Homo sapiens: one gene and its partner. The protein of the gene in region 1 purifies or fractionates together with the protein of each later gene. This does not show direct contact. Each region holds a gene or a part of one and is shown on either strand. Other genes may lie near its edges.

Region 1 (3,962 bases):
TTACAGGTGTGAGCACTTATTCATTATTCATTATTACATTCATTATATTATTATAATGGCCCGGCCTGTATTCATTATATTTATCATAAAGTAATATTAATAGTACATAAAAATATATAAAAGTACTTAAAAATCCATCCTCGTGTTTTTTGTTTTGTTTTCTTTGAGACAGAGTCTCGTTCTGTCACCCAGGCTGGAGTGCAATGGCACGATCTCGGCTCACCGCAACCTCCGCCTTCCGGGTTCAAGTGATTCTCCTGCCTCAGCCTCCCGAGTAGCTGTAATTAACAGGCATGCACCACCACGCCTGCATAATTTTTGTATTTTTAGTAGAGACGGGGTTTCGCCATGTTGGCCAGGCAGGCCTCGAACTCCTGACCTCGTGATCCACCCAACTCGGCCTACCAAAGTGCTGGGATTACAGGCGTGAGCCACCGCGCCCGGCCGGTTTTTGTTTAAAAAAGAAAAGAAAAAAAAAAAAAAACACACAGACACACACAAAAACATCACCCCAATCCTTCCACCCTTGAACGCCACTTGAAGCCTAAGTTTCCTGCCTCCAAATTCCACTATTTCCACCCTCGACTCTCCTCCCCAGCTGTCCTAGATTCTGCTCCAGCTGAGCCTTGGCCCCGGGGCTGTTAGAAGGCAGAGGCTCTGGGGAGAAGTCCCCAAACCGGATTTACCCGTTCGTCGCACCTGTCCCTAGGAGGGCAGGCTGGGGTGTGGAGGCGGTGCCCTGCTGACCCGCGGGGAGAGAAGCCCGGGTCTCCCAGGCTGCAAAACGCTCGGCACTGCGGAAGCCGCGCCAGGCTCTCCCAGCTCGATACGCAGCGGCCGGCGCGCCTGCTCCGCCGCGGGGCCGAGCGGCAGAGGGGCCCGGGGCTGCGTGGAAGGCCCGGGGGCTTCAGCCCGTGCCGGGGAAGCCGACGCTCAGCCAACCAGAAAGTTAGAGGCGGCCGAGGTCTCGCGGAGGGGAGGCGCCTGGCGGCCACGGGAGAAGTCGAAGGGCTCAGGCGGGGCTCCATCCGCGACACTGGGAGCCCGGGCGGGCGCGCACGTGTGTATACGAGTGCGTGGGCCCATCCGGCGGCCCGGACTACAAGTTCCAGGGTGCCCAGCGGCGCTCCCGGGTTTTCTGGCCGCGCCTCCCGCTGGCTCCGAGCAGGTCGCCGCTGGCTGGCAGTCGCCACCCGGTCCCAGAGTAAATAAGGGAGAGACACTCCCGAGCGCCGTAAATAGAGTCCAAGTGGGCGGAGAGCCGTCCCGCGCCGCCCGCTCATGTCTCTACAGAGCCGACTGTCCGGCCGCCTGGCACAGCTGCGCGCGGCGGGGCAGCTGCTCGTCCCCCCGCGCCCCCGGCCCGGACACTTGGCGGGTGCCACGAGGACCCGCAGCAGCACGTGCGGTCCCCCGGCGTTCCTGGGCGTGTTCGGCCGCCGTGCGCGGACCTCGGCGGGAGTTGGGGCGTGGGGGGCGGCGGCGGTGGGGCGGACAGCCGGGGTGCGCACTTGGGCCCCCCTGGCCATGGCGGCGAAGGTGGACCTGAGCACCTCCACCGACTGGAAGGAGGCGAAATGTAAGTGTAAGCACGAGGGGGCGCGAGGGAGAGGGCGGCCTCACGTGGAGCTTCCCGGCTGGGCGGCCCCCAACGAGCGAGCAGCCCCTTCCACCCGAGAGACCTGGGGAAGTTGAGGCCCCATCTGCCCTGGAACGGACCCCTCCTCCCCATTGACAGCCCCCCCCGCCCCCGCGCGTGTTCCCAGCCCCACAGAACAATTCACTCCAGACCAGGTCCAAGTGTCCACGCAGGGGGCAGCGTGAGGAAGGCGGCCTTCCTTACCCCATTGGAATGGGTCACAGGGCACCCCAGAGATTGTGCAGGACCTACCAACTTCCTTCCCTGTGCAGGAGGGAAACTGAGGCCGAGTGCCACAGCTGGCTTCCCCAAGGTCACTCGGAGCTGGTGGCAAAGTGGAGGTTATGATCCCGGACTCTCCAAACTTTGCACAGTGTGGTTCTTAAGTGTTCGGGAATGGGGCTGAGGGAACAGCTCCGGGGCTGGCGTCCCACCTGGTGGGGCACGTAACCTCACAGAGTGACCTTCCTGGGCTGGCCTGTCCTGCCTCCACCCCACCCCAAGCCCGCACTCTGATGCCTTCCTGGGCACGTGGTCTGGCGCCCTTTTCCCCTTCTCGCTGGCCTCTGGCCACTTGTGAGCAGTTTGCTCATGCCAGGAACAGAGGTTAGAGGAGCAGGGCAGAGGTGGGGTCTTGTCCCTGTGACAACTGATGACACCCTTCAAGAATCACACCACTTCCTCTTGCTCCTGGAGGGGGCATGAGTCTGGGGCCTGGGGAGAGAGAGAACCCAAGCTGCCGCTACTGAGCCCCAAATAGCCCTGCCGGGCACCCAGCTGCCCCTGCCTTTCAGGGCCTGCCTCCTGGGATCCTGTGACTCTTCCCGGCTGGATCCCCTTTCAAAAGTGCAGGGAAGTGGCTAATTGGCTGGGCCTCCGTGGTGGAGTAGGTGTGGCCTCTGGGCTGGGCAGGCAGGATGGGGGGGTCCTGCGGTGTTAGGGGTGAAGAGAAGATGGCTTTCTCGGGACCAGAGGTGGAAATCAAAATGATTTACTCCTGACATGAATTGTGTGGCCTGCGCCAGGATCTAAAAGTGACGGCAGAAAGCACCGACTTTAGCCCGTGAGCAGATGGAGAACTTGTCAGGCACTTGGCCCTTGCCCCAGAACAGCAGGAGGAGTTTGGGGCTGGCAGAGACCCCTGGAGGGGGAGCCACTGTCCCCACAGAGACCCCTGCTCCCCTGAGCACTCTCTCAGAGGACAACAACCCAGGAGGGTGGGAAAGAGCTACGGAGACAAGGTGCCCAGGCACCTGCTCGAGGGCTGCCGCTGTTTTTAGGATCCAGCCCCCACAGCCCCACTCCTTGGTGCCAGGAAAGCAACCGGACCTTGTGATGGGGCTGGGGTTCCTGGGCTGCTGTGTTGTCACTGGGGTCTCCCTTTTGCTTCGAGGTGGGATTTCCAATCATGCAGCAAACTTTTATTGAACGCCCCCTAGGTGGTCAGGCTGGGGACTCAGACATGTGTCAGATAGGCAAGGGCCCTGCCCTCATGGAGCTTGTAATCTGGTGTGAGGATTACAAAGCATCTATTGTAAAGAATGTGTTCTAGCAGCTGAGACAAGGCCCGGTAACCTCAGTGCTGTGAAGACACCATAGCAGATGGGGCCACCTGAGCTGGGGAGATCAGAGGAGGCGTCTCAGGGGTGGTGGCCTGAGAAGAGGCATCCAGCTGGGTAATGATATTCCAGACCCGTTATTGAGTGACAGTGGGCCAGGCCCAAGGAGTGGGGCTGGTCTGGGGCTCTGCCTGCTACTGAAGCCACAGTTAGAGGGACGCTTTCGGGGGTGAGATGTGGAGATCCCCCAATAGTTATCTATTTCTGTGTAACAAAACACCCCGAACCTTAGTGGCGTAAAACAGCAAACCTGCATTCTCTCCATCTCTTGAGGGTCAGGAAACTGAGAGAAGCTTAGCTGGGTGGTTCTAGCTCAGGGTCTCCCTCCCTCTGAGGCCGGGTGGGACTTGGTTAGGGCTGGAGGATGGGCTTCCTAAACAGCTCCCTCCCATAAAATGGCATTTGGTGAGAGGCCTCGGTTGGTCACTTTGGGGCCTCTCCATGGGGCTGCTTGAGTGCCTCACATGGGATAGATGTCCTAAGCTTTTCCCCCAGAGCATATGCTCCACGAGAGGGATCGTGAGGAGACCCCGATGGAGCTGCAGTGCCTTCTTTGTGACCTCGTCTTCGAAGTCTCTCCTGCTTTATTCTAGGGGTCAGAATCGAGTCAGGGAGTCTGGCCATACTCCAGGAGAGGGAAATTAGGCTCTACCTCTTGAAAGAAAGAATCTCAAAGAATTTGAAGGTGTGTTTTTATTTTCTTA
Region 2 (3,500 bases), about 31 Mb from region 1:
TAAGAGTAGAGAGAAAGATAAGAGTATTACCCACTCAAGAACAGGTTCCCAGGAGTGGGTAAACAAAACACCCATGGGCCCTCTCTGTAAGTGATCTAGGAGGTTACTTTCCAGGATGTAAGAGTTGACAGATCAATAGGATTGAAGATCTGGTGGCATTATTATTGCCATCTTTGGAGAAACTGTCTTTTAAAATTTCAATAGTTTGTATTAATAGGCTATTTTTCCTAACTTCCAAGAGTGTCAATGAATGGAAAGGTATGCACACAATCAAAATGTGTCCCTGAGAGCTATGTTATTAGACCACAGAGTAATACAATATTCAGATGAACCCAAATAATAGAGGGAAAAGAATTACTTCATCAATTCTAAGTAGAGCCTTGTCTCTCTCTATGTCTTCTGTTTCCATATTTTAAAAAACAATTTCTTCTAAACCCAATTTATTATATTTTGTTCTTACAAAGAGAGATTTCATTTCAAATATGTCATCTCCTCAGACTTTGCAATTAATTGCTGTTAAGATTGCTAATGACTGAAAATATCAAGAGTAATACCAGACAGGGAAAGCTCTGCTGTAAACAACAGACTCATAATAATCATTAAAATAGCCTGATGGAATTCCATACCTTTGCTACACGTCTAGCATTCATATAATCTCTACTCCGATCTTCAATCATTTTTTTAGCTAAATGAATATTGATACCCTAGAAAAAAACAAAAATATTTTAAAATTAAGTATAGTTTCTTAAAAATTAGTACAATACAGTTAATTTATTCATTTACTAAATAACTTTAAATTTTTATTTTAAAAGATTTCTTGTTTAATAAAGGTTCATACAGCTCATGAAAAGCAGGGAAAAAAGGTTCAATCACATTATACATTTCCAAGATCAAGGAGGATGTGCTTATGTCTTATGAGCTGGCAGTAAGTTTCCATTTATCAGGAACTTTTAAAGATAGAATCATTTGAAAAGGCTCAATAATTTCATATAAGATTCTACTGAAAAAAAAATGACATGGCTCATGCCTGTAATCTTAGCACTTTGGGAGGCCGAGTTGGGTGGATCACTTGAGGTCAGGAGTTCATGACCAGCCTGGCCAACATGGTGAAACCCCGTTTCTACTAAAAATACAAAAAAATTAGCTGGGTGTGGTGGTGTGCGCCTGTAATCCCAGCTACTTGGGAGCTTGAGGCAGGAGAATTGCTTGAAATGGCGAGGCAGAGGTTGCAGTGAGCTGAGATCATGCTATTGCACTCCAGCCTGGGCGACAGAGCGAGACTCTGTCTCAAAGAAAAAAAAAATATGTACAGATTCATCTGGGTGAATAGCCATGGCTTGACTTTGATAGCCCTTTTCTTTTTCTTTTTTATAAACAGAGTCTTCCTCTGTCACCCAGGCTACAGTGCAGTGGTGCCATCCTAACTCACTGGAACCTTGAACTCCTGGGCTCAAGTAATCCTCTTGCCTCAGACATAGGACTACAGGTGTGCCCTGCCAGATCTGGCTAATTAAAAAAATTTTTTTTGTTGAGACATAGTCTTGCTATGTTGCCTGGGCTGGCCTCAAACTCCTGGCCTCAGGCAATCCTCCCACTTCAGCCTCCCAAAGTGCTGGGATTACAGGCATTAGCCATCACACCTGGCTAATAGCCCTTTTCTAACTAGTTCTGTTGTATAACACTTTTTAAAAAGACAAACAGAAGTAGCAAGGAAAGATAAACATTACCACTCAGTGAGTACTCCAAGGATTCTAAGACCCTTTCAGGGAGTCCATGAGATCAAAATAGTTGTCATTATAACACTAAGACATTATTTGCCTCTCTCATAAAATACAGGAGTTTTACAGAGGCTACGTGACATTTAGTATTATAACACACTAAATGGAAGCAGATATGAAAATCCAGCTGTTTTCTATTACACTAGATATGAAAGAGATTTGTGAAAATATAAAACAATGCCACTCTTCTCACTACACACTACATTTTTTGTTTTGGAAAATACAGTTTTTGGCCAGGCATGGTGGCTCGTGCCTGTAATCCCAACATTTTGGGAGGCCGAGGCGGGCTAATTGCTTGAGCTCAGGAGTTCAAGGCCAGCCTGAGCAACATGGAGAAACCCCATCTCTACAAAAAATTAGCTTGAGAGTGGTGGGGCATGCCTGTAGTCTTAGCTACCTGGGAGGCTGAGGTGGGAGAATCACCTGAGCCCAGGAAGTTGAGACTGCAATGAGCTGTGATTGTGCCACTGCATTCCAGCCTCGGTGACAGAGTAAGACCCTGTCTCAAAAAAATAAAAACAAAAAATTCTTTGTGATCTTCAATAACTGTTAAAATCCAAAAACCATAAAGTTTGAAAACCACAGCTGATGCCTGTGAGGGAACAATTTCACTACCCTATATAGTTCTTCCAAATCACAATATACATACGAAAAACTTTCTTTTTTTCTCTTTAGAGACGGGCTCTCACCATCTTGCCCAGGCTGGTCTCAAACTACTGGGCTCAGGCAATCCTTCCATCTCGGCCTCCCAAAGTGCTGGGATTACAAGTGTAAGCCACCATGCCCAGCCAAGGAACTTCCTTTTAATGCTAGAGCTTATTTGGCATGTGTATTTATGTATTCAGATTGATTAGCTCAGTTATTAAAAGTAGATACCAATAACACAAAGATCTTGGATTGTAGCCACACACTTCACAAATTCAAACCAATCATCACATCACTGTAATCAGGTGAAAAAGGTGCACAGCAACCAAAAAATAATTCCCAAAAGGTACTATTGGAAACATAATTCCCAAAAGGTACTGTTTTATAGGTCAATGACAATGTGTATGTGTGTGTATGAATGTGTGGATATGGCTTAGCAAAGAATAAAAATAGTTTTATAAGAACTATTGTTCTTCAGAGTATCCTCTAAAAAATAACACTATATGGAGACTCTCAAACCTTGCAAAAACATTATAGTGCTTTCATTACAATCAATAAAAAAAGTGTAACACTGATACAGAAAGGCTATAATCTACAAATCCACAATGCATAGAAATTAAAATGGCTTGGTTTATAATAAACAACTACTCTGACCTAATTTACCTCTTCATACTTGTTATAGTCTCTCCAGAGCTGTTCAATGTTGATCATCGGATTAACACAACCTCGTTGATAAACTCTTCGGACAGCTGTTATTCTTTGATTTTCTGCATAAGATCCTACAGCTTCCCTGAGATTGGATAAGAAATGCCATCAATTATATTATAACCAAATCTCATTCAACCCAGCAATCTCACTACTGGATATCTACCCAAAGAACAACTCTATGGAAAATAGTATGGAGATTTCTCAAAGAACTAAAAATTATATTTTAGCTAAATCAACTGTAGATGTAAAAAAAAACTATACAAATACTTACACGCCTTTTAGGAAATTGATGTAATCCACCCAAATCTAAGAAATAAAATGAAATGTTAATATCTTTCTTGGTATTCTTACATTTAAGTGCATACATTA

The links. Proteins that work in one complex are often made in the same cells at the same time.
Region 2: the proteins of MACROD1 (region 1) and CSTF3 purify together in Homo sapiens (affinity purification with mass spectrometry, with the first as the bait; one study listed by BioGRID). This does not show direct contact.

The regions. Positions count from the first base shown.
Region 1 is NC_000011.10:64,163,314-64,167,275, reverse strand, and holds the start of MACROD1 (ADP-ribose glycohydrolase MACROD1), read left to right. Parts: upstream 1-1,162; 5' UTR 1,163-1,281; coding exon 1,282-1,579; intron 1,580-3,962. UniProt on the Homo sapiens protein: Removes ADP-ribose from aspartate and glutamate residues in proteins bearing a single ADP-ribose moiety. Inactive towards proteins bearing poly-ADP-ribose.
Region 2 is NC_000011.10:33,102,481-33,105,980, forward strand, and holds part of CSTF3 (cleavage stimulation factor subunit 3), read right to left. Parts: intron 3,438-3,500; coding exon 3,403-3,437; intron 3,214-3,402; coding exon 3,087-3,213; intron 705-3,086; coding exon 627-704; intron 1-626. UniProt on the Homo sapiens protein: One of the multiple factors required for polyadenylation and 3'-end cleavage of mammalian pre-mRNAs.